7 linked regions of the Homo sapiens genome follow. The protein of the gene in region 1 purifies or fractionates together with the protein of each later gene. This does not show direct contact. Each region holds a gene or a part of one and is shown in the gene's direction. Other genes may lie near its edges.

Evidence for each region.
Region 2: the proteins of ARRDC5 (region 1) and ABCG2 purify together in Homo sapiens (affinity purification with mass spectrometry; one large-scale study listed by BioGRID and IntAct). This does not show direct contact.
Region 3: the proteins of ARRDC5 (region 1) and ATP11B purify together in Homo sapiens (affinity purification with mass spectrometry; one large-scale study listed by BioGRID and IntAct). This does not show direct contact.
Region 4: the proteins of ARRDC5 (region 1) and CNTN1 purify together in Homo sapiens (affinity purification with mass spectrometry; one large-scale study listed by BioGRID and IntAct). This does not show direct contact.
Region 5: the proteins of ARRDC5 (region 1) and MEAK7 purify together in Homo sapiens (affinity purification with mass spectrometry; one large-scale study listed by BioGRID and IntAct). This does not show direct contact.
Region 6: the proteins of ARRDC5 (region 1) and SLC2A1 purify together in Homo sapiens (affinity purification with mass spectrometry; one large-scale study listed by BioGRID and IntAct). This does not show direct contact.
Region 7: the proteins of ARRDC5 (region 1) and SLC12A2 purify together in Homo sapiens (affinity purification with mass spectrometry; one large-scale study listed by BioGRID and IntAct). This does not show direct contact.

What each region holds. Positions count from the first base shown.
Region 1 is NC_000019.10:4,896,397-4,899,896, reverse strand, and holds part of ARRDC5 (arrestin domain-containing protein 5), read left to right. Parts: intron 1-1,811; coding exon of another isoform or gene 1,812-1,935; intron 1,936-3,020; coding exon 3,021-3,226; intron 3,227-3,500. UniProt on the Homo sapiens protein: Plays an essential role in spermatogenesis. May be involved in the anchoring of the sperm head to the tail during spermatogenesis by affecting SEC22A-mediated SUN5 and NDC1 transport and localization.
Region 2 is NC_000004.12:88,152,140-88,155,639, reverse strand, and holds part of ABCG2 (broad substrate specificity ATP-binding cassette transporter ABCG2), read left to right. Parts: intron 1-3,500.
Region 3 is NC_000003.12:182,792,086-182,796,303, forward strand, and holds the start of ATP11B (phospholipid-transporting ATPase IF), read left to right. Parts: upstream 1-1,418; 5' UTR 1,419-1,674; coding exon 1,675-1,701; intron 1,702-4,218. UniProt on the Homo sapiens protein: Catalytic component of a P4-ATPase flippase complex which catalyzes the hydrolysis of ATP coupled to the transport of aminophospholipids, phosphatidylserines (PS) and phosphatidylethanolamines (PE), from the outer to the inner leaflet of intracellular membranes.
Region 4 is NC_000012.12:40,936,939-40,940,438, forward strand, and holds part of CNTN1 (contactin-1 isoform 1 precursor), read left to right. Parts: intron 1-631; coding exon 632-749; intron 750-2,396; coding exon 2,397-2,547; intron 2,548-3,500. UniProt on the Homo sapiens protein: Contactins mediate cell surface interactions during nervous system development.
Region 5 is NC_000016.10:84,501,860-84,506,031, reverse strand, and holds the start of MEAK7 (MTOR-associated protein MEAK7), read left to right. Parts: upstream 1-1,372; 5' UTR 1,373-1,431; exon of another isoform or gene 1,432-1,603; intron 1,604-1,884; exon of another isoform or gene 1,885-2,074; intron 2,075-3,273; exon of another isoform or gene 3,274-3,311; intron 3,312-4,172. UniProt on the Homo sapiens protein: Activates an alternative mTOR signaling through RPS6KB2 activation and EIF4EBP1 repression to regulate cell proliferation and migration. Recruits MTOR at the lysosome, essential for MTOR signaling at the lysosome.
Region 6 is NC_000001.11:42,931,369-42,934,868, reverse strand, and holds part of SLC2A1 (solute carrier family 2, facilitated glucose transporter member 1), read left to right. Parts: intron 1-3,500. UniProt on the Homo sapiens protein: Facilitative glucose transporter, which is responsible for constitutive or basal glucose uptake. Has a very broad substrate specificity; can transport a wide range of aldoses including both pentoses and hexoses.
Region 7 is NC_000005.10:128,184,766-128,187,471, forward strand, and holds part of SLC12A2 (solute carrier family 12 member 2), read left to right. Parts: exon of another isoform or gene 1-23; coding exon 24-91; intron 92-1,730; coding exon 1,731-1,866; 3' UTR 1,867-2,706. UniProt on the Homo sapiens protein: Cation-chloride cotransporter which mediates the electroneutral transport of chloride, potassium and/or sodium ions across the membrane. Plays a vital role in the regulation of ionic balance and cell volume.

The sequences.
Region 1 (3,500 bases):
TGCAATCTTGGCTCACTGCAAGCTCCGCCTCCCGGGTTCTCGCCATTCTCCTGCCTCAGCCTCCTGAGTAGCTGGGACTACAGGTGCCCGCCACCACGCCTGGCTAATTTTTTTTTTTTTTTTTTTTTTTTTGTAGAGACGGGGTTTCACCGTGTTAACCAGGATGGTCTCGATCTCCTGACCTCATGATCCACCCGCCTCGGCCTCCCAGAGTGCTGGGATTACAGGCGTGAGCCACCGCGCCCGGCCGCTAGTTCTTTTTTTAAGAGACAGTCTTTACTCTGGCACCCAGGCTGGAGTGCCATGGCGTGATCTCAGCTCACTGCAACCTCCACCTCCTGGGTTCAAGCAATTCTCCTGCCCCAGCCTCCTGCATAGCTGGGATTACAGGCGCATGCCACTATGCCCTACTAATTTTTTGTATTTTTAGTAGACACAGGGTTTCACCATGTTGGCCAGGCTGGTCTCAAACTTTTGACCTCAGGTGATCTGCCCCACCTCAGCCTCCCAAAGTGCTGGGATTACAGGCATGAGCCACCATGCCCATCCCAGGTTTTTCATTTATTTAATAAACATTTTTTTTTTGAGATGGAGTCTCACTCTGTCGCCCAGGCTGGAGTGCAGTGGCGCGATCTCGGCTCACTGCAAGCTCCGCCTCCCGGGTTCACGCCATTCTCCTGCCTTGGCCTCCCGAGTAGCTGGGACTACAGGCACCCGCCACCACGCCCAGCTAATTTTTTGTATTTTGTTTATTACAGACGGGGTTTCACCGTGTTTGCCAGGATGGTCTCGATCTCCTGACCTCGTGATCTGCCCGCCTCGGCCTCCCAAAGTGCTGGGATGACAAGTGTGAGCCACCATGCCTGTTCCAGGTTTTTCATTTATTTAATAAACATTTATTGAGTGCCTACTGTGCACAAACACCGTGCTAGGTGCTGGGGATGCAGCAGTGATGAAAAAAACACAGCCTGGGCCGGGCACGGTGGCTCACGCCTGTAGTCCCAGCACTTTGGGAGGCTGGGTGGGCAGATCTCCTGAGGTCACAAGTTCAAGACCAGCCTGACCAACATGGCAAAACCCCATCTCTATGAAAAATACAAAAATTAGCCAGGTGTGGTGACACGCGCCTGTAGTCCCAGCTACTTGGGGCGCTGAGGCAAGAGGATCACTTGAGCCCAAGAGGTCCAGGCTGAGTGACAAAGTGAGACCCTGTCTCAAAAAAAAAAAAAAAGGCCAAGCCCGCCTGATGGCTTATGCCTGTAATCCCAGCCCTTTGGGAGGCCAAGGCAGGTGGATTATCTGAGGTCAGGAGTTCGAGACCAGCCTGGCCAACATGGTGAAACCCCATCTCTACTAAAAATACAAAAATTAGCCAGGCATGGTGGTACACACCTGTAATTCCAGCTACTCAGGAGGCTGAGGCAGGAGAATTGCTTGAACCTAGGAGGCGGAGGTTGCAGTGAGCCAGGATCACGCCACTGCACTCCAGCCTGGGTGACAGAGTGAGATTCTGTCTCAAAAAAACAAAAAAGAAAGAAAGAGACAGGGTCCCTAGTATCTTTGGGATTGCCATGGGCCAGAGAAGATAGAAAATGCTAAGAGGATTTTCGAGAAGTGCAAGAAGGAAAATGAAACAAAGGTCATGGAAATGGCAGTTGTGTGAGAGTCTGCTTCCTAGACCATCACTCAGTTGGTCAATCAATATGTATTAAGCACCCACTGTATACCATGCACTGAAGGTCAAGCTCTATGAGGGCGAAAGTTTTCTCTGCCTCACATACTACTTTGTTTATTTATTTATTTATTTTTAGAGATGGCGTCTCGCTCTGTCACCCAGGCTGGAGTACAGTGGCATGATCTCGGCTCACTGCAACCTCCGTCTCGCACGTTCAAGCTATCCTCCCACCTCAGCCTCCTGAGTACCTGGAACTACAGGTGTGTGCCACCACACCCGGCTAATTTTTGTATTTTTAGTAGAGATTGGGTTTCGCCATTTTGGCCAGCTTGGTCTCAAACTCCTGACCTCAGGTGATCCGCCCGCCTTGGCCTCCCAAAGTGCTGGGATTGCAGGCGTGAGCCACTGGGCCCAGCCAGTTTGTGCCTATTATCCCAGCACTTTTGGGAGAGTGAGGCAGGAGGACTGCTTGTGGCCAGAAGTTCAAGACCAGCCTGGGAAACATAGCAAGACCCTGTCTCTACCAGAAATTTAAAAATTAGCCAGGCATGGTGGCATGGGCCTGTAGTCCCAGCTCTTCTGGAGGCTGAGGTGGGAGAATCACTTGATCTCAGGAGTTGGAGGCTGCAGTGACCATGATCACACCACTGCACTGCAGCCTAAGCAACAGAGCCAGACTTTGTCCCTACAAAAAGAAAAAAAAAGATATATTTGTTGAACCCTGAAGGCCTGACTTCCACTTTCTCAGGCTCAGGGCAGGGATATGCAAGAGCCCTTCAGTGGTTTCGGGTGACAACTCCAGGCATGTCACCCACCCCAGGGCATCCCACTCCAGCCCAGCTGCGACCTGATATTTATAGGCCCAGCAGGTCCTAAAAGCATAGAGCTCAGTTTAACTCAGGAGGGACAGACAAGCCAAGCCCAGGACCCACCTCCATGCCAAAACAATAAATCAAGCAAAAAAAGGCCAGGTGCAGTGGCTCACGCCTGTAACCCCAGCACTTTGGGAGGGCAAGACGGGCGGATCGCCGGAGGCCAGGAGTTCAAGACCAGGATGGACAACATGACAGAACCCCATCTCTGTCAAAAATATAAAAATTAGCCAGGTGTGGTGGTGCACGCCTGTAGTCGCAGCTACTCAGGAGGCTGAGGCAGGAGAATCGCTTGAACCTAGGAGGCAGAGGTTGCTGTGAGCTGAGATCACACCACTATACTCCAGACTGGGTGACAGAGTGAGACCGTGTCTCAAAAATAAATAAATATAAAAATAAAGCAAAAAAAAAAAGAAGAAGAAGGAAAAAAGATTCTAGAACCTTCTGATGGCATCGGTGTGTTTTGCTTTCAGATAATTGGTTAAGTGCAGGCAGCCACACCTTTGACTTCCATTTCAACTTACCTCCCAGGCTTCCTTCTACCTTCACCAGCAAATTTGGCCATGTCTTCTATTTCGTACAAGCTTCCTGCATGGGCAGGGAACACATTTTAGCCAAGAAGAGGATGTACTTATTGGTTCAAGGAACTTCCACCTTCCACAAAGAAACCCCATTCCAGGTACCGATGGGGGAAAGGTGGAGGTGGGAACAATCTCCAAGCTCCAAGGAGGAAGAGGGAAGGTGGGCAGGCAGGGGACAGAGAAGGTCCCATGGGGAGAAGGGAAGGGTGTTGGCAGCTTCCCAGGCCCCGAGATTTCACAAAAGGTGAGTCAGAAACCTTAGGGCAGCTGGAGGTCAAGGCTGCAGTAAGCCATGTTTGCACCACTGCACTCCAGCCTGGGCGACAGAGTGAGACCCTGTCTCTAAAATAAAATTATATATATGTGTGTGTG
Region 2 (3,500 bases), on another chromosome or scaffold:
AGCCACCGTGCCCGGCCTAGAGTTACTTTTGAACTTTTTATGTATAATAAAAAGTTTGTGACTTAGCAAATGCTAAGTCTGAAAAGATTGGTGTCAGGCCTCTGAGCCCAAGCTAAGCCATCATATCCTCTGTGACCTACACTTACACATCCAGATGGCTGGTTCCTGCCTTAACTGATGACATTACCTTGTGAAATTCCTCCTTCTGGCTCATCCTGGCTCTGTACTGCCTCAAGGCTTCACAGACAGCCCCCATTACTTCAGTCAAACCCAAATTTCTTCCTCATCTGTTACCTATCTTGTCATAATTCTTCATAAAAACACACGTGCTCTCCCTGCCAATCGTGTCTGACTGATCTCTCAAACCCCAACACCTTCTACAAAACAACTCCTTTCCTTCCTAGGCATGGTTGGATACTTTCGACTTTGGATACCTGGTTTCGCCATCCTAACAAAGCCATTATATAAACTCACAAAAGGAAACCTAGCTGACCCCATAGATCCTAAATCCTTTCCCCACTCCTCTTTCCATTCCTTCAAGACAGCTTTAGAGACTGCCCCCCACCCTAGCTCTCCCTGACTCATCCCAACCCTTTTCATTACACACAGCCGAAGTGCAGGGCTGTGCAGTCAGAATTCTTACACAAGGACCAGGATCGCGTCCTGTAGCCTTTTTGTCCAAACAACTTGACCTTACTGTTTTAGCCTAGCCATCATGTCTCCGTGCAGTGGCTGCCGCCGCCCTAATACTTTTAGAGGCCCTCAAAATCACAAACTATGCTCAACTCACTCTCTACAGCTCTCATAACTTCCAAAATCTATTTTCTTCCTCACACCTGACACATATACTTTCTGCTCCCCGGCTCCTCCAGCTATACTCACTCTTTGTTGCGTCTCCCACAATTACCATTGTTCCTGGCCCAGACTTCAATCCGGCCTCCCACATTATTCCTGATACCACACCTGACCCCCATGACTATCTCTCTGATCCACCGGGCATTCACCCCATTTCCGCATATTTCCTTCTTTCCTGTTCCTCACCCTGAACACTTGGTTTACTGATGGCAGTTCCACCAGTCCTAATTGCCACTCACCAGCAAAGGCAGGCTATGCTATAGTATCTTCCACATCTATCATTGAGGCTACCACTCTGCCCCCCTCCACTACCGCTCAGCAAGCCGAACTCATTGCCTGAAGTCAAGCCCTTGCTCTTGCAAAGGGACTACACATCAATATTTATACTGACTCTAAATATGCCTTCCATATCCTGCACCACTATGCAAGAGGTTTCCTCACTACACAAGGGTCCTCTATCATTAATGCTTCTTTAATAAAAACGCTTCTCAAAGCCGCTTTACTTCCAAAGGAAGCTGGAGTCATTCACTGCAAGGGCCATCAAAAAGGTATCATATCCCATCGCTCAGGACAATGCTTATGCTGATAAGTTAGCTAAAAAAGCAACTAGTGTTCCAACTTCTGTCCCTCAGGGTCAGTTTTTCTTCTTCGCATTGGTCACTCCCACCTACTCCCCCACTGAAACTTCCACCTATCAATCTCTTCCCACACAAAGCAAATGGTTCTTAGACCAAGGAAAATATCTCCTTCCAGCCTCACAGGCCCATTCTATTCTGTCATCATTTCATAACCTCTTCCATGTAGGTTACAAGCCGCTAGCCTGCCTCTTAGAACATTTCCTTTCCATCGTGGAAATCTGTCCTCAAGGAAATCACTTCTCAGTGTTCCATCTGCTATTCTACTACTCCTCAGGAATTTCTCATGCCCCCTCCCTTCCCTACACATCAAGCTCGGGGTTTTGCTCCTGCCCAGGACTGGCAAATTAGCTTTACTCACATGCCCCGAGTCAGGAAACTAAAATACTTCTTGGTCTGGGTAGACACTTTCACTGGATAGGTAGAGGCCTTTCCCACAGGGTCTGAGAAGGCCACGACGGTCATATCTTCCCTTCTGTCAGACATAATTCCTTGGTTTGGCCTTCCCACCTCTATACGGTTCAATAGAGGACCGGCCTTTATTAGTCAAATCAGCCAAGCAGTTTTTCGGGCTCTTGGTATTCAGTGAAACATTTATATCCCTTACCATCCTCAATCTTCAGGAAAGGTAGAACGGACTACTGGTCTTTTAAAAACACACCTCACCAAGCTCAGCCACCAACTTAAAAAGGACTGGATAATACTTTTACCACTTGCCCTTCTCAGAATTCGGGCCTGTCTTCGGAATGCGACAAAATACAGCCCATTTGAGCTCCTGTATAGATGCTCCTTTTTATTAGGCCCCAGTCTCATTCCAGACACCAGACCAACTTGGACTGCGCCCCCAAAAACTTGTCATCCCTACTATCTTCTGTCTAGTCATACTCCTATTCACCATTCTCAACTACTCATACATGCCCGCTCTTGTTTACACTGCCGGTTTACACTGTTTCTCCAAGCCACCACAGCTGATATCTCCTGGTGCTATCCCCAAACCGCCACTCTCAACTCTTAAAGTAAATAAATCATCTTTGCTGGCAGGGCTATGCTGAACCTCCTTAGGCACTCTCTAATTGGATGTCCTGGGTCCTCCCAATTCTTAGTCCTTTAATACCTGTTTTTCTCCTTGTCTTATTCCGTTCTTTTTTCAATTCATACAAAATTGTATCCAGGCCATCACCAATACTTATATAGGACAATTGTTTCTTCTAACAACCCCACAATATCACCCCTTACCACAAAATCTTCCTTCAGCTTAATCTCTCCCACTTTAGGTTCCCACGCCGCCCCTAATCCCACTTGAAGCAGCCCTGAGAAACATCACCCATTCTCTCTCCATACCACCCCCCAAAAATTTTCACCACCCCAACACTTTACCACTATTTTGTTTTATTTTTCTTATTAATATAAGAAGACAGGAATGTCAGGCCTCTGAGCCCAAGCTAAGCCATCATATCCCCTGTGACCTGCACATATACATCCAGATGGTTGGTTCCTGCCTTAACTGATGACATTCCACCACAAAAGAACTGAAAATGGCCTGTTCCTGCCTTAACTGATGACATTACCTTGTGAAATTCCTTCTCCTGGCTCATTCTGGCTCAAAAGCTCCCCCGCTGAGCACCCTGTGACGCCCCACCCCTGCCCACCAGAGAACAAACCCCCTTTACCCTTTACCTACCCAAATCTTATGAAATGGCCCCATCCCTATCTCCCTTTGCTGACTTTCTTTTCGGACTCAGCCCGCCTGCATCCAGGTGATTAAAAAGCTTTATTGCTCACACGAAGCCTGTTTGGTGGTCTCTTCACACGGACGCGAGTGAAAATTCATATTGCCTTAAAGTTTAAACATTATAGAGGACCTGACTGTATTTGCCAACTTGGATTCAGTCTCTTATGGGAAAGAAGTAAAATTGGTAGTATTTAGTAATTTTTTAAAGCTCCCATTTTTTTCTCAAATGAAACCCTGCCAGTGCTTCCAAAACAAATAATGCATATGTGAGCTTCTAT
Region 3 (4,218 bases), on another chromosome or scaffold:
AAAGAAAGATTCTATTTGTGGTGCTGGATAAGCATTATATAGTAAGAAATGTCTACTGAAACTAGAAGATTGAGGATGCATATTCAACGACCTGCCTAGTCATGCTAATCTCATTTAGATTTGTTCTTGCTTAATTTTTTTTTTTTTTTTTTTTTTTTGAGACGGAGTCTCCTTCTGCCGCCCAGGCTGGAGTGCAGTGGCGCCATCTCGGCTCACTGCAAGCTCTGCCTCCCGGGTTCACGTCATTCTCCTGCCTCAGCCTCCCGAGTAGCTGGGACTACAGGCGACCGCCACCACGCTCGGCTAATGTTTTGTATTTTTTAGTAGAGATGGGGTTTCGCCATGTTAGCCAGGAAGGTCTCGATCTCCTGACCTCGTGATCCACCCGCCTCGGCCTCCCAAAGTGCTGGGATTACATGGGATTACAGGCGTGAGCCACCGCGCCCGGCCGCTTAATTTTTTTTTTTTTAACCACAAACGTCTGTCGGTGAAGTGTGCTTTAATTCAGCAAAAATACAGCATTCAATACATATACATAACACAATATGTATACGGGGCTGCTTTTAAACAACGCCAAACCTTTAAGTCAAAGCCTTGTTCCAGTTGCTTGTATATTCCTTCTGAGCTTGTCATCCACACACTTTTTTAACCTAGGTCAAGTTACTGCTACGGGTGTTTTTGATTGCAGAAGTTTGGCAGTTAGCAGTAAAGAACTACCTTTTTATACAAATTATCTTCCCCTGAACCTGTCCAATTTAGCACACGGCAAGACAGAATATCTCATCCATTCGCCTAGAAACACGGGTCCAGGCTGTACCAGGCTCAGGGGACTTGCAACGCTTTCGAATCACTTAATGGGTGTGATCAAGATTTCCCTAGCCCCGTCTCAGCCATTTGCTAAAGAAGAGGCCTGACTTGTGTTGAGACGAAAGCTCTTACAGCTTGATGGAACCCAAACTGGGACTTCTGGGGGGATTAACTTTCAGTCACATACGTTCAGGACTGTGCGTATGCGTGTCGGGAGACGCGTGAACCAAAGAAGCCACAGAGCCCGAAAAAGACCTGCAACAGGAGGTAGAGACCGAGGAATCGGCCCCAAGCTGCAGACTCCGGAGATGGCCAGACCCACAGACACGACTTAATCCCACTCCCAGAACGGGGAGGAGGGTGGCAGTGGACAGAAACAGCGTTCGAGAACCCGGCACCTTTCCACGCTCGCTTCTTCCCGGACCCACAACACAGAAACCCCCCAACTCGGAACGGCGGCGGGGCGCGCCAGGCCCCCCTCGGTCCGCGCACCCCCTTTCGTCACGTCCGGGGGCGGGCCGGGGCGCCGGGGGCGGTCCCGGGTGGAGCCGGGGGGCCGGGCGGGGCGGGGCGGGGGTGGGGTTGCGGGGGTGCTTTGGGTGACAACGGTCAATAATGAAGGTGGCTGCGGCGCGGCGGCAGGCTCAGCTGCGCCGGGCGGGGGCGGCGCCGGGGCCGCGCCTGTAGGACTCGGGGCCGACGCCGCGGGATGGGGACGCGGCGCGGGGAGTGAGGCAGTGGCGGCGGCGGCGGTAAGCGGAACTTCGGCCCGAGGGGCTCGCCCGCTCCCGCCTCTGTCTTGTCGGCCTCCACCTGCAGCCCCGCGGCCCCCGCGCCCCGCGGGACCCGGACGGCGACGACGGGGGAATGTGGCGCTGGATCCGGCAGCAGCTGGTAGGTGCCCCCGCCCCTCCACCTCCATTCGTCCGCCCCCGCGGGGCCTCTCGGCCCGGGGTGGCGGGGAAAGGCCGGCGGCGCGGAGCCGGGAGGCCAGGGCGTGGGCGCCCGGCTAGGCCGCAGCGGAGACGGGCGCGGGGCCCAGAGCCGGAGAAGCCCCGTGCGGCTCCCGGGCTCGTCTCGCCTCCAAGCCCGGGCCGCCGAGGCTGGCGCCGAGCGGCCGGAGGCGGCCGCTTCTAGCCGGCGCTTCTCCGTTACTTCTTCCCCCTTGCCGCTCCGGGGCTGCTGTGGCCAGAGGCGGGAGTCCCGAGCGGGGTGGCGGTGCCCCCAGAGGAAACAGGGCGAGGGAGCTGAGCGAGAGTAGGTCTTGGGGAGATGAGAGAGGCGTGCTCTTCCTGCCTCGAACAATTTGGGACGTGTTTGGGTGAAGGGGAAGCGAAGAACCTGTCTTCTGCCCCCACTCGTCACGGACTTCTGGAAGCGTGTCACGATCCAGAGCTGTGTTGATTCCCGAGGAGGAGGCTGTCGTAGGTGTCTAGCCCCCTCAGCGAGAGACGTTTCTCCCCAGGACCTGGAAAGGGGAAAGACTGTGCCAGCTGCCGGTCTAGCTTCGGAAACGATACGTATTGTACGATAGTTACGAACGATACGTACTGTCGTTTCCTTCCTACCTCGTCCTCACCCCACCCCGAGTGAAACTTTTCGAGTGTGAACCTTACTTTTTTCCCGTTCTCCTCAAGGCAGTTTGAACGACACAGGTTTGGAAGGAATAGTTAACTCTCCAGTATTATTGGAACATCTGGACACCACCAACAAAAAATCTTAGAAAAGGGTCATTTAAGGCCTATAAAAAGTGCCACCTTTCCCAGAATTAATTCAGAGAGAAAAATCTTATCTGCCTCCTGGCAGCTACAGCGCAGAAAGTACAGCATTAAGGCAGCTGTGACAATTAGGACAGAAATTGCCCCTGGCTGAAGAAGCCTAACCTTATCTGTGTGATGAGGCCGGTTACTATTTAATTTCTAAATCGCATTAACTTAATGCTTCTACAAGTTGGCGTTTTCATTTACTAATTCTAAAGGCAGTGGTAAAATTTAGTGAAACAGGAACTATTTTTGTGGGACGAAAGCACTGATAACTCTTTTTCCCTTCTGCTCTAGAAAAGCATTTTAACGTTAAGACCAAGAAGTGTGGTGTTTCAGAGCCAGCCTTCTGTTACTTCGTTTTGCAGCGGGCATCATTCTCAAAAAAAAAAAAAAATTATAAATAAGAACTGCCTACCACTCCCTCCTACAAATGTTGGGTCTCTGTTTTTAGCATTGTAAATTCAGATATCCCAGATATATGCTTTATTAGGAAACCAAGCTAATGATGTCATTATAATACCATCTTGTAATACTTTGGCTTTGTTGCAGTAAGCTGTAGCACAGTAATTTTACTCAGAAAGTTAATTATTACAGATTTGATCTTATGCTTTTGATTTGCCAAATCTTCTTGTATAGAGGGCTGATTTACCTGATGGTGTTTTTGTGTGGTAGGAAGATCATTTTAAAGTGGTTCTCTTGAAGCTTTTTTAAAAATGTATTGAGACATCCTTTCTCACTGTTAGGTATTTTTTAGCCAGAATAAAATCCTGGTTGTATAACCATGCTCATCTTCAAGACAGAAAACCTGGTAATGTTTTTTAAAATGGCTTCAAATGAACCCAGCTAAAAGGAAGGGCCGGAAGTTGTGTGTGGTTATTTTACAAGGCAGCCGTCTTAACAGGGATGGTTAACGAGTTGAACAAGTTCCTGTGCATAAAAAATGCTATCTCTGACATTTAGTTGCTCACCTCACTGGTTTTAAGTTATCAGATCCTCTAAGTATGTAATCATACTTGGGCCAATGTAGGACTTTGTGTCTCTGGTTAAGTTTGTATGATCACATAAATTAAACATCAAGGACCCTGGATACAGAGTAATGAAAGTATATTTTGCTATCCCAGTCATAGACAGCTATTCTGATTACTGCACCAGAAATTATTCAACTCAGGTAAAAGCTAGTTTAGATTATACTTCCAGTGGCTTAATGGATTGAATCACCACGACTTTCAGCAATGGGTTTATTTTAAAATGCAGATAACTAGGACAAATTTGGGGAAATTGACAAGCAAATCCTAAGGACAGGTTGGAGTTATAAGCATATTTAATTCGTTATATGAATCCCGATTTTCAACTAATGTCTCACAAAAAAGTCCTTTTATTACAGAAACAATGCCTATGTTCTAGTAATTTCTTTTTAATTAAAAAAAAGTGTGACTCCTTATGACAAAATATTTTCACTACTTGAGAAGATGGAAAAATCAGAAAGTTGACAGAAGCTTGATCTTTTCTATTGGGAAAGTAGGCTGAAAATAAAAAGATTGGAATATCCTTTTTTGTTTTTCTTTTTGGCACACAATGTTAAAGTTACTTGACACTAAGAAAATTCTCTTATGGTGTCTTTGTGGTACAGTTAGTATTATTCAAAGTA
Region 4 (3,500 bases), on another chromosome or scaffold:
TCCCTGTTCAAGCAGTGTTTCAGGGTAGTCCTGGGATAAATTTAGCAGGAGAGACAATACAGAAAGGGCACTTGGGCCCTGAAATATAAAAGCTTCCTAAAAAAGACAAAAACTGAACATAAAGTATCTTCTTTCAGTTTAAACAACTTTCTGTAATCTTACTCTACCTTCTCTCTCTCTCTCTCCTTATTTTTTTCCTTTGTTCCACTTTTCCACCCTCTTCCTACTCATCCATCTCCAATACCTGATATTGTCCTCTTTTTCTTGCCACTATTTTCCTGTACCCCACAGAGACAGAGGTAAGAGTGAAGCTCTAAGTCCTACCTTTGGCCCTGGGGACAAGTAGCAGCAGTGGGATTCTTCTCTACCTTCCCACTGTAATCTCCCAGCTGGTCCAAGAGGGGAAAAGGTGGACTCTCAGCTCTGTAGGATGAATAGAACAAGAGCCTTTGGGCATGGTAAGTGGGTTTTCCTTTCCCATGCCATGAAAATCCCACTCAGTTCATCTTAGGTAACAGTGGGGGCAGATGAACATAATGTATCTAAATGAAAAGACAACCAAACCCAGACCTAAGTGAAAGTATTTCTATTAAAGTTCATTGAGAATATGTTTCAATTTTATTCTTTTCAGTATCATAAAGGGGAATTAAGACTGTATGATGTGACTTTTGAAAATGCCGGAATGTATCAGTGCATAGCTGAAAACACATATGGAGCCATTTATGCAAATGCTGAGTTGAAGATCTTGGGTCAGTATCATTTCTAATTTCTGTTAAACATTGTTAAAGCAATATGTCATATCACACAAAATGTTTATTGAGCCTACACAAAATACCCAGTATTGTGTTAGGTGTACAACATATGTTGGTTGTTTACTGATTTATTTATTGCTAATTATCATAATTCAGACTAACGAAACAATGGAATAGAATGAATCTTTGCCACAACAAAAGTCTTCTTCAGAGCATCAGCAGCAGTGGCCATACCTAGGAGCACATTAGAAGTGCAGAATCCCAGGCTCACCCCAGACCTACTGAATGGACACTTTAAAAAGATACCCAGATGATTTTAATACAAAGATAATTTTGAGAATGACCAGACCAGAGGATGAAGAGTCAAAACCCAGATGAAGATATGCTTAGGCCTAGAAAAGCCTCCAGAAAGTACATAGTTACGGATGATTGTAATGTGTTGAAATATATGGATGAAATCTGCTTGGAGTCTGCCAAGGGAAGAGGAGAGTGAGCAGTGGATTAAATGTGTGGATGCTGAGGAAAGTCTGAGCATGACATCAATGAAGTAACCTTTTTTAAGCCTCTGTATTCTGTTCTAATAATTATTGCTCTGTACTTGGAGGTAATGATGAACTACAAATGATCATGTCTCCTTAATTAGTTGATTAGATCCATTATTCCCATAGCTGTTTATAGATAGATCCTGAAAGCAGGACTCCAATTATTTTGGCATTTTGCAGGGTGTTTGCATACAGATGATGCTCAGTAATTGTATAAAGAAGGAGAGACTGCATTGTTTAATGAAAAGTACATGCTTTGGAAACAGAAGGACCTAGATTCAAATGTGACTCCCACTTATTACTACCTGTGGTACCTTTGCCAAATTAAATAATCCTAATAGATTTCAATTTTCTCATTTATAAACTGGGAATAGTTCATTCAACATGTGGTTTAGAGGATTGACTAGGACCATATGTCAGTGTGTATAATGCTGGTCAATTTTTTCCAGCCTTTCACTTTACTTTCCTTGTGGAATTGAGTCAAAGCAACAGAATTCAGAGTTAATTTTAAGGTAAATGTGTATAAAACATTTGATTGAAATTGAAGTTATTTATTTATTGAGACAGGGTCTCACGGTGTTGCCCAGCCTGGAGTGCAGTGAGGCGATCACGCTTCACTGCAGCCTTGACCTTCTAGGTTCAGGTGATCCTCCACCTCAGCCTCCTGGATAGCTGGGACTACAGGCATGCACCAACATGCCCAGCTAATTTTTTTGTATTTTAGGTAGAGATGGAGTTTTGCCGTGTTACCCAGTCTGCTCTCAAACTCCTGGGTAAGCCATCTGCCCACCTCAGCCTCTGAAACTGCTGGGATTATAGGTGTGAGCCACCCATGCCTGGATTCTAATTAAAGTTTCTAATAATCAATTCAGTTATCATCAAGAATTGTACATTTGAATTGGGTGAATTTTATAAGTCAAAGTTATTAAATAAAAGTTACAAAGCATTAGGTATAGAATGCCTATTGGTGACAGCTGATCATATTTACCGAGATTAATCCTTTCCATTAACTATTAAGGAGAATAAAAGATTCTACAACACAGAAGCAATGTTTAGGCTTTACAAACAGAAAGAGAAAGATAACAATTTGTTTTCTTTTTAGCGTTGGCTCCAACTTTTGAAATGAATCCTATGAAGAAAAAGATCCTGGCTGCTAAAGGTGGAAGGGTGATAATTGAATGCAAACCTAAAGCTGCACCGAAACCAAAGTTTTCATGGAGTAAAGGGACAGAGTGGCTTGTCAATAGCAGCAGGTCAGTGCTGAAACTAGAAATCCAATTGCAAAATCTGTTTGAAAAAGTTTATTTTATAGAAGACTTGTTTATATGTTAATAATGAAAATGTTTTTTGCTCTGAATTTTTTTTTTCACAGAAGATCCTGTAGTTCTAAGATGGACAGAAATACCTATCCCTGTCAGTATCTATTATAATGAAGGTTTAATTAACAGGACTCTATAATGTATAAGGAATTTAGAAAATTGAAGCTCAGAGGTGTTTTTTTGTTGTCTTGTTGTTATAAATTGCCCAATGTCACACAGCTAATAAACAATGGGAAATAAAGTAGGATCTCTCTAACATATTTTTCCCCAGTATAGGCATCTGGCATCTATATCCATTCATATTCAACTGAATTTTGTGCAGTTAGCCTATTAAATATTTTTGTAGAAAAATAAAAAGGTGATTTCAAAGTGCAAATAATCTCTTCCTATCTCAAAATGAACAAGATGTTATCATCATCTTCCTTATAAATGGACCATCTACCAATGTTTTGGTGGTTTGGGGACAAAATGAAAAAGCAGTGTACAACTTATATAGATTATTTGTATAAAAGCCACACTGAATAGTTTATATGTATCCTAGAAGAAGTAATATTGAGTGCAAAAATTATGACGAGGAGAAAGCCAGGATGGGAAATGGGAGGGATGGGATGTGTGGGTTGGCTTGAGGGTGTATGTGAGGGTGTATGTGAGGGTGTATGTGAATGTGAGGGCAGCATGTACAAAGGCCCTATGGTGAGGAGTTTAGAATGTGTAAGAAATTGCAGAAACTGAAATCAGTGTGATTTGTCTTTAGAGGAAAATGGAGGAGACTTTTAAGAGATGAGACATAGTAAGCCACATCATAAATGACAAAGTTTTCTATGCTAAGGGGCTTGGGCTTCATCTAAGAGTAATATAAATCTGTTTAAAGTCTTAAACAAGGGAGG
Region 5 (4,172 bases), on another chromosome or scaffold:
TGAAGAGCTGGGGCTACTCGTGTCATTGGCATCCACAGCTGGGGGTACCCTGGCTGTAGATGCGTTAGTTTGTGGAGCTGCTTCTCCTGGGACATTGGCCTTGGATCTCAGAGCAATGTCTTGGTGAGGGGCCCTACCTTGTGCACTGTCACCAGCCAGGCCTGCTGCCCTCAGGCAGAAAGCCTTCTATTTTTGTTCCAGCTTAAAGAATAAGAGGTGACCAGCCGGGTGCAGTGGCTAACCCCTACAATTCTAGCACTGTGGGAGGCCGAGGCAGGCAGATCACCTGAGGTCAGGAGTTCGAGACCAACTCAAGCGGACGTTGGCGGGCGAAGTCACGGTTTTCCAGGCTGGAAAACCAGCAGGCCGTGCAGGGGAGAGAACTGGTACCATGGACATGCGGGAGCTGAATCTGCAGGAAGGTGGACCCCAGGGAGGATGCGTGGGGTGGAGAGAGTAGGGAGAAGTCGAGAAACTCCAGGGCAGAAGCCAGAAGGGCCCAGGGAAGACCACCAGGGACAGCGAGCGAGCCAGGGCCAGGAATGGGCGCCGGGGTGCCCAAGAGAGAGGTCTGATGAGAGCACGATCACCAAGCGCCAAATGCTGCCTGCGAGGACCCAAAGCGCACCTCGGATGTAGTGAGCAGGCCCCCGGGACCAGGTTTCGGTGGGTTTGAGAAGGAACGAGCTGAAGAAGTGGGGTGACAGGTTCAGACGTCTTGGAGTGAACGGGAACCGGCTGAAGAGGCGCACGTGGGGTGGAGGGAGTCTGTTTAGCCAGGCTGTGGAGCTGGCGCCTGATGGCTGCCGGGAAGGACCTGGTGCCAGGGAAGAGCGAGGCAGGGGCAGCTGGCAGAGGGAGGCCCGAGGGGAGGCGGACCCGAGGCTCTAGGCCAGGACCAGCAGGCCGGGGAGTCAGGGGAGAGTTGCCTGGGGCCCAGGAGGCTGCACTGCAGAGGCCTCTGCATGGGCTCCACATGGGCCACTCTCCTCCCCCGGGTGTCTTCACCCCCAAGCTCAGCCTCTCCCCCAGGATCTCCCACACCCTGGCTACTCCGCTCCAGCGCCCAGCCCAGACACCCCTTCTCCCCAGGTACCACTGCTGGCCTGGCCTGGCCTGAGTCATTGGCCGCCCTCTCCAGGCGCCTCCTTGGTACGCACGCAGCCGGGCCGGATTCCCGGGCCTGCAGCCGCTCCTCCCGCAGACCGCGGCCCCGCCCCGAGCCGCACCCACCGGGTTCGGCTCACTCCCTGTGAGGCGCGTCACCATTGGCTGACTCCTCTCTTGGGTTCCGCCCCACACCTCCGCTTCCACGATTGGACCAAATGACTGCCCCTCAGCAATGTTGCCTGGCAACAGGGAAGGGGCGGCTCTCGAGAGGAGCCCGTGGGCTGCTGGACCGGACCGGACAGCACCAGGAAGCCCGGCAGGGTAGGTACCTGGGCTGAGGTTCGCAGTGAGCTGACCCAGAGGCGCAGGCCCAGCTGAGTCGGGGGACTGGAGCAGACGGGTCCAGAGTAGGCCTGGGCCCTGCCCCTCCCTGGCCTCCCACGCCTCTTCAGGCCCTCGGGTCGGGGGAGGGAGAGGTGAAGGCTGCGGGGAGGTGAGGGGTGGGGACAGCGGGGCGGGATGGAGGGAGGGTCTCCTGGGGGGGATCAGAATCATCCTGCACCTCCCGCTGTTTATGTGGTCAAGGTAAGAGGGTGGCGAGGTGCTTCCCCCAGGGCCAAGGCCAGCCGTGTTGAAGGGGGATTCAGAGCCTGTGTAGACGCGGAAAGGGAGGGGTGCCTCCACGGAGGAGGCGAGTCTGGGGTAGACACTGAAGTGTGTGTGGAGGGGGTTTTCCTTCTTGTATTCTGACCACACCCATCTGGGCTTTTCCAGGACAGTGAGCTGATAACTGTTCCCAGGCCATGTAGGTGGCCAGCACAGGACAGGTCACCTTCTGGCCCACAGGAACTTCTTGCCCAGGCTCAAGCTGCCCCTTCGCACAAGGGCCTCTGGGCTCTGAGACACAGACAGGACTTCGAAGCCTGTCCAGATGAGGCAGTTGGAATCTCCCCAGCTTGTGGGGGTACGGAGGGACCCTTGTGTGGCTCTAGGGATGCGGGGCCCTTGGAGTAGAGAGTTGGAGCTTGGCAGCCAGGGTGGGAAGCAGCCATGTAACAGCCTGTTGGAGAAGCTCTGAGCAGGAGGTGACTAAGCCATTCCTAGGATACTAGTGGGAACCTTGGGGGCCATCCTGCAGACAATCGGTCCCTGTCCACCCCTCCATCACGGAGGCAGAGCAACCTTCCGTTTCTTCCAAGCAGGGCAGTTTCTCTTGTTCTAAGACAAGATCCCAAGGAGCCATTCTCTGTTGTCTTGGGCCCATTATTCTGTCTCTGACCTCCAGTAAGCAGATCAAATGCCCTGGGTTACCTTATTTAATCTTCTCAACCTTATGTTAAAGAAATTAATTAATGATGCTTATTAAAAGCACATTAATTATTGAAGACCATTGCAATGGGTATAGGGACCACAGCAATGGGATTTTGTAGTAAAGGAGAGAGATTGGGCTCAACTCTGATTATAGCATGGGCAAGTGGGAAGCCAGGAAGCAGGGTGGGGATCAGTGGATGGAAGATGACTGAGGAAACATCAGGGCGCTAGGGTGGATTCTGGGTAAGCTTACCTAGCAGTTTGTTACTGAAGGCAGGCCAGGGTGATCAGACATCACCTAGGGCAAGCTCGTCCAACCCGTGGGCCATATGTGGCCTAAGGCGGCTTTGAATGACATCCAACACAAATTCATAAGCTTTCTTAAAACATGAGATTTTTTTTTTACCATATATGTAGATATATGCACTTATCAGTTATTGTTAGTGGGTTTTATGTGTGGCCCAAGACAGTTCTTCCAGTGTGGCCCAGGGAAACTGAAAGATTGGATATCCCTAACCTAAGCATTAAACCTGGTTAGATAGCAAGTGAACAGATAATGGTGATCAAATATCAAGGATGAGTGGTTTTGTGGGTTTTTTTGTTTGTTTGTTTTTTGTTTTGCTAAAACCAGATTTTACAAAGAGGTACACAGATGGGCCCAGGAGCCTGACTAAAGTCTGGTCAAGCAAAACATCTTGGTCACTTATTATGGGCTGCTGGAACTTTTGTTTGTGTTTTTATGAGACAGAGTCTTGCTCTGTCACCCAGGCTGGAGTGCACTGTTGTGATCTTGGCTCACTGCGACCTCTGCCTCCTGGTTCAAGCGATCTTCCCACCTCAGCCTCCTGAATAGCTGGAACTATAGTCACACGCCACCACACCCGGCTGAGGTTTGTATTTTTGGCAGAGACGAAGTCTCACTATGTTGCCCAGGCTGGTCTCAAACTCCTGGCCTCAAATGATCCTCCCAAAGTTCTGGGATTATAGGCTTGATGATGGAAAGCTTTCAGTCCCTGGCAAGTTTTCTCGGTGTCATGGGACTTTCACAGTACACCTGGGTACATGGGGTGGCCTCTTCTCTGCAAAGCTGTGCATAACACAACCCTACATTGGCCTCGAGACTTCTGTGGGTTCCCTTGTATCAAGTTCCGCTTCCATTTTGTTCCGCTGCCCTACATCCTCAGAAGCCAGGTTTTCTCACCTTCAGCCCTACCGATGTCTGGGACGGACACTTCCTCGTCGTAAGGCCATCCTGTGCACTGTAGGATTTTTAGCAGTATCCCTGGCCTCTGCCTGCTAGATGCCAACGGCACTCCCCTCCCCCAGTTGTGGCAACCACACACTTTTCCAGTCATTGCCAAATGCCCCTGGGGGACGAAACTGCTCCAGTCGAGCTCCACTGGTACAAGCAACCTTGATGTGCGCTGTCAGCACCAGCACCAGCGTGCATTGTCTTTTTTTTTTTTGAGACCGAGTTTCACTCTTGTTGCCCAGGCTGGAGTGCAATGGCATGATCTTGGCTCATTGCAACCTCCGCCCCCTGGGTTCAAGCAATTCTCCTGCCTCAGCCTCTCAAGTAGCTGGGATTACAGGCATGCACCACCACACCCGGTTAATTTTGTATTTTTAGTAGAGACAGGGTTTCTCCATGTTGGTCCAGCTAGTCTCGAACTCCCGACCTCAGGAGATCCACCCGCCTCGGCCTCCCAAAGTGCTGGGATTACAGGCGTGAGCCACCACACCATTGCCAT
Region 6 (3,500 bases), on another chromosome or scaffold:
GAAGTAGGACAGACTCGGAGGCAGAATCGAGAGGACCTGGTGATGGATGGATGTGGGGTGGTGGCAGCATCAAGTGTTTAAATCCTAAGCTTGGGACGGGCATGTGAGGTGGGAGCGTTCAGAACAGGCACGTGCCAGGTCTCACCTCACACATGACCCAGGGTTGCGGAGGCTGCTGGGAGCCGGCGGGATTGGGCCTGTGGGATCCTGTCAGGGCATAATAAGTAGACTCTTCTTTCCTGAGGTGCACCCAGACACTTCTAGGGAGGATGTGACCCCAGAGCTTTTCCCCATGTAGGGTTCTTCTCATTCTCCAGCATCCCCCTGCCTTTCCTGGGCCAAGAGTCAGCGTGGAACCCCATACGAATCCCCAGGGAGGAGAGGGCACAGAGCACCGGAACCAGCAGTAGGAATTGGAAAACCAGGCGTGGCTTCTTCCCAGAAATCTCAGGCATCAAGAGGCAGAAACCCACTCCCCAGCCTCAGCTTGGCCAGGAAGTGCTGCTGTGGGCTGGAGAGGATGGGTCTAGGCCAAGGTGAACATGCAGAGAGCTGGCTGCTCACCCTTCCTCCACCCCATAAAGTGGTCTGAGTAACAGAGCAGCTAGGCAGCGTCCAGGAGCCAGCCCTGGACAAGGTTGGGTCCCTTTGACTGTGTGACCACAGGCAGGAGACGTAACTCAGGGTGGAGCTCTGGTCACACCTCACTTACACACAGCCCTCTTGTCAGTTGCCCCAACATCTCAAGAGATCTTCAAGCTTATTTAGGTAGTTTCAAGCCTTACTTAGCACCTATTTACTCTTTCTTTGTATACAATTCAAACAAATTCCATTTGCTGACTTCTTGGCAAATTTCAAAAGAGGTGTGGAGAGTTGTACAAGACAAGCCTCTGAACCACAGAGGGTTGGGGGAATACCTTAGAACTATGGAATGCAGAAATTTAGCCATCAGGAGCCAGTCTGCACAGGGACAAACACCTCTCCTTGCCCCTGGAGAGAGCCCCAAGGGCAGACACCATTGCCCTGCAGCCCTGCTTGTAGGTCTGGTTGCTCAGGAGAGCAAAGTGAAATCTCTTCACATTTTCACCCCATAATGGGTCAGGAAAGATTGGACCCTCAGAAGGGCAAGCGCCATTTATCTGGACCGTTCCCATATCCACCCTCATTCAGAGCAGCCTGTTCTTGGTGGAGCCTGATAAACGGGGCATTACCGTTCCCAACCAGTCCTCCTCTGGGGTTAGTTTCGTCCACAGAAGAACACTTTGCATTTTGTTACTCTGTTTTTTGTCAAAATCTGCCTTCTGTCTGCCCCCAGCAGAATCAAGGGGTTCTAAGAGGAGAGCCTAACACCTTTGGTTCGATTCCTCCATTTCCTCACCAGGTATCCCTGGCACTGGCTCTGGGACAGACCATGGTGTGAATCAACTGTCTTCCTCAGGGAAGACAAACTCCTGGAGTCAGGGAAACCTGGATCTCGAAAGGTTTCAGCAATAAGGCCAGGGGTACCTTCCAGGCAGGAGTAGTAGCATCTCAAAGGCGTAGAGGGGTGGGAGATGGTGTGTAGTGAGTGCAAAGGTGTGGTAGGTAGGGAGATTGGATTGATACCTGGCAGGAGCCCCGATTTTGAGTTACGGGTTGAAGGCTTGGGGAGACTCTGTTAGTGGTCTGCACAGCCTTCAGGCCACCAGTGTGCAGTGGGGTGATTTTAGGGATGATGACACCAAGCACTGTTTCACTGATTCCCTGCAGCACTGTGAAGCAGCTCCTGCTAATGTCTGCACTTTAGAAATGGGGCCATGGAAACTCACAGATGAAATAACTTGCTCATGGTCACACTGGAAATAAGGGGTGGAGCTAGGACCTGAATTTAGTTGTGTCCAGAATCAGAGTTCAGGTTTCTATTCACTGCCCTGCATGGCGTCCTTGGAACGGACAAGCAGATCCTTAGGGCTTGCCTCTGCCCTACCAACTGTCCTCGCCCCTTGGAGCCTGGCCTCCATCAGATGCCTGCTGACTTGGGACAGGTTGTGACAGGGCAGGGGAAAAGATGGCTAGAGGCTGAGCACCCACAGCAATGGGAAGGAAGGCACCAGGAGGCAGGCCCAGCATATTTGAATAGGTGGGCATTTCTGGGACTGCAGGCTTTGGTTTGGCAAGTGTGCCTGCCCACACCTTCTTCTTCTGCTAGACCTCAGTGGGTTGGAAGGGATAGGGAGGACCAACAGCAGTGATGGAGGCTGCAGAGGCTGCATACCGCTGTGTGTGCATGAACCTGTGGCATGCACACACACGGAGGGGTGTTGGGATGGGTTGGGTTCACATGGAATTGAGTTTGAGCTGTAAGTGGTAGGGGATGAGGGGCATGTGAGTTTGTGACTGGCTAAAGCAGGAATATTTAGATTCTATGAGCACGGGTATGTGTGTGTGATGGTATACGTGCATAAGAAGCCGTTTCTGGGTAACTAGGGCCTGCACTCTGCTATACGTGTGGCTGGGTGGGTCTGGCCAGTCCCATGGCACTGAGAGTGTGGTGAGTGTGCTCAGGCAGAACGGGTGCTGCCTGCCTACCACATCCGTGGGAGCTGGCCAGGGTGGGGGCAGGGCTGGTGGGCAGGGCTGCCCTAGGACGGGCGTTTCCAGTTCCTGGAACTGCTTCCTTGTGTGGAACCTTTCCCCATACCTCCTAGCTGGGCCCTTGGGAGAGGGGAGGAGGCCGTGGGTCCTTCAAGGGGGTGCTCGCAGGCCAGACACAAGGGAGCTAGGCCTGGGGAACAGAAAGCCACAGCGTGAGTCTTTCAAGCACTTCTGAAGGGTGACATGTGTGAGTTTGTCACACCAGGCCCTCAGTGCGGTCAGGGAGTCTGTACTTCCTGGATGGCGGAACCTGTCTGTCAAGCCCTGCTTCCTCCCCAGCAAGGGGTTGGGGGGAGGGCCTGATGGCAGGAGATGGGCCCCTGGGGCTTTGAGACATGGTGAGGAGAAAAGGGGCAAGTGGGAAGACCCTTTTCCTTCTGTATTTCTCTTTTTTTTTTTTTTTTTTTGAGACATAGAGTCTCACTCTGTCACTCAGGCTGAAGTGCAGTGGCACAGTCTTGGCTCACTGCAAACTCCGTGTCCTGGGTTTAAGCAATTCTGCCTTAGCCTCCCGTGTAGCTGGGATTACATGCTTGCGCCACCACGTCCAGCTAATTTTTTTTTTATTTTTAGTAGAGATAGGGTTTCACCATGTTGGTCTGGCTGGTCTCGAACTCCTGATCTCCAGTGATCTGCTTGCCTTGATCTCCCAAAGTGCTGGGATTACAGGCGTGAGCCACCACACCTGGTCTTGTACCTCTCTGTTCTATGCCTGAACTTCCACCACTGATCACTTGCCATCATCCCAGCAAGTCACACTGAGCCTGTGAAACCACAGGGCACTGGAAACCACACGTTAGGGGAAGTGGGAGAGTTGGCGGGGCTCTCAGATGAACTCCAACCCCTTGTTTCTCGCCTGGGGAAAG
Region 7 (2,706 bases), on another chromosome or scaffold:
ATGACTGTCCTGTTTCATTTCAGACATACCGGCAGATCAGGTTAAATGAGTTATTAAAGGAACATTCAAGCACAGCTAATATTATTGTCATGTAAGTAATATCTTTATAAAGATTTTCTTGCTAATTTATGATAATATGCTTTGAATTAATTTCTATTCCAAGTACATATCTATATAACACCCATATTGACTTAGTGGTTATAAGGAGGAAAAAACAAACTTGTAAAAATATACTATGCTTTAAGCATATGGAGAAAGACAAAAACTTTAACCTTATGCTTATATGAATCCCAAGTAATCTTTTTATCATAGTAGGTTATATTGGAACCTTTTGTTTACCCTTCTTCTCACCTTTTTAAAATTCCTTATCTTTGTAAACACTACAGCATAGCCGTTAAGCACGTGTGGATAGGAGGGTCCTACGTTAAAATTTGGGCCCCGGACAGCTTCCTCTTGAAAATAATTCAAAAAATGTTATTTGGCAGATTAAACTTGAATAGTGATTCCTATCTGGATCCCCATTCTTATGTTTCCAACACGCAAATTTTACATACAGACACATTGTCCTTGAGTTAAATATGATACTAAATGCCTACTTTGGCTCTTCCTCTACTGAACTAGGTTAGCTATTCTTTGAACCCACATTTTCTGAGTTCTGGAACATGTGTCCTTAGATAGGAAAGCTCAGGCCTCTCCCCCACAAAAAAAGCCAAGTAATGAAAAAAACTACCAAAAGATTGTTAGTTTAACAACATTCAATAAATCAAAAAGTTTCAAGTTTTGCTGATGATAATCAAATACCTGTAAATGGAAAAGACACCAAAACATAGAAATTTAGAGAAAAACTATACAGCAATTGGTCACTGCTGCCACCATCCATAAATAGAAATTAAAACTAAGAGAAGATAAAAATTGCATTTATCCATATATAGCTTCTGTTTTCTAAATTTTGATAGTAAACATACCTTTCACCTAAAAGAATTCTATTCTTATTAAAGAAGGGGAAACCTAGGATTTAGTGTTAGATATCAGAGGTACTGTGGTTTATAGAAATACTTACTGTTCTTATGAACAAATTTTGAAAAATCTTTTGTTGAAAGATTATAGTCTTTTATATATGCATATATGATGGTGGTACCATAAGATTATAATACCATATGTTAAGCTGGGCATGGTGGTGTGCACCTGTAGTCTCAGCTACTTGGGAGACTGAGGTGGGAGGATTGCTTGAGATCTGGAGTTTTGGAGTTTTGAGTCCAGCCTGGGCAATGTATTAAGACCCCATCTCTCTTAAAAAAATATATATATATTTTTACTGTATCTTTTCTGTATTTAGATATGCAAATGCTTACCATCGTGTTACAGTTGCCTATAGTATTCACTACAGTAACGTACTATACAGGTTTGTAGCTTAGGAGCAACAGGCTGTGTCATATAGCCTAGATGTGTAGTAGGCTATACCATCTAGGTTTGTGTAAGTACTCCTGTGATGTTTTCACGAGGGCAAAATTGCCTGACAGTAAGTTCTGAGAAATGCGTCTCCATCGCTAAGCAACACAACTGTGGTTGTTATTCTATTTGCAGAATTCTCCTGCACTCAGAAATATTCTGTAATTATAGTAATTTACAGTAACTGTTATTGTAATCTACTTTATAATTTTTGCTACATTTTATTCTGTAAATGCATTGCTCAGGGTTTTTTTTTTTTCTTTTTCTCTTTTTGATACCAGGAGTCTCCCAGTTGCACGAAAAGGTGCTGTGTCTAGTGCTCTCTACATGGCATGGTTAGAAGCTCTATCTAAGGACCTACCACCAATCCTCCTAGTTCGTGGGAATCATCAGAGTGTCCTTACCTTCTATTCATAAATGTTCTATACAGTGGACAGCCCTCCAGAATGGTACTTCAGTGCCTAGTGTAGTAACTGAAATCTTCAATGACACATTAACATCACAATGGCGAATGGTGACTTTTCTTTCACGATTTCATTAATTTGAAAGCACACAGGAAAGTTGCTCCATTGATAACGTGTATGGAGACTTCGGTTTTAGTCAATTCCATATCTCAATCTTAATGGTGATTCTTCTCTGTTGAACTGAAGTTTGTGAGAGTAGTTTTCCTTTGCTACTTGAATAGCAATAAAAGCGTGTTAACTTTTTGATTGATGAAAGAAGTACAAAAAGCCTTTAGCCTTGAGGTGCCTTCTGAAATTAACCAAATTTCATCCATATATCCTCTTTTATAAACTTATAGAATGTCAAACTTTGCCTTCAACTGTTTTTATTTCTAGTCTCTTCCACTTTAAAACAAAATGAACACTGCTTGTCTTCTTCCATTGACCATTTAGTGTTGAGTACTGTATGTGTTTTGTTAATTCTATAAAGGTATCTGTTAGATATTAAAGGTGAGAATTAGGGCAGGTTAATCAAAAATGGGGAAGGGGAAATGGTAACCAAAAAGTAACCCCATGGTAAGGTTTATATGAGTATATGTGAATATAGAGCTAGGAAAAAAAGCCCCCCCAAATACCTTTTTAACCCCTCTGATTGGCTATTATTACTATATTTATTATTATTTATTGAAACCTTAGGGAAGATTGAAGATTCATCCCATACTTCTATATACCATGCTTAAAAATCACGTCATTCTTTAAACAAAAATACTCAAGATCATTTATATTTATTTGGAGAGAAAACTGTCCTAATTTA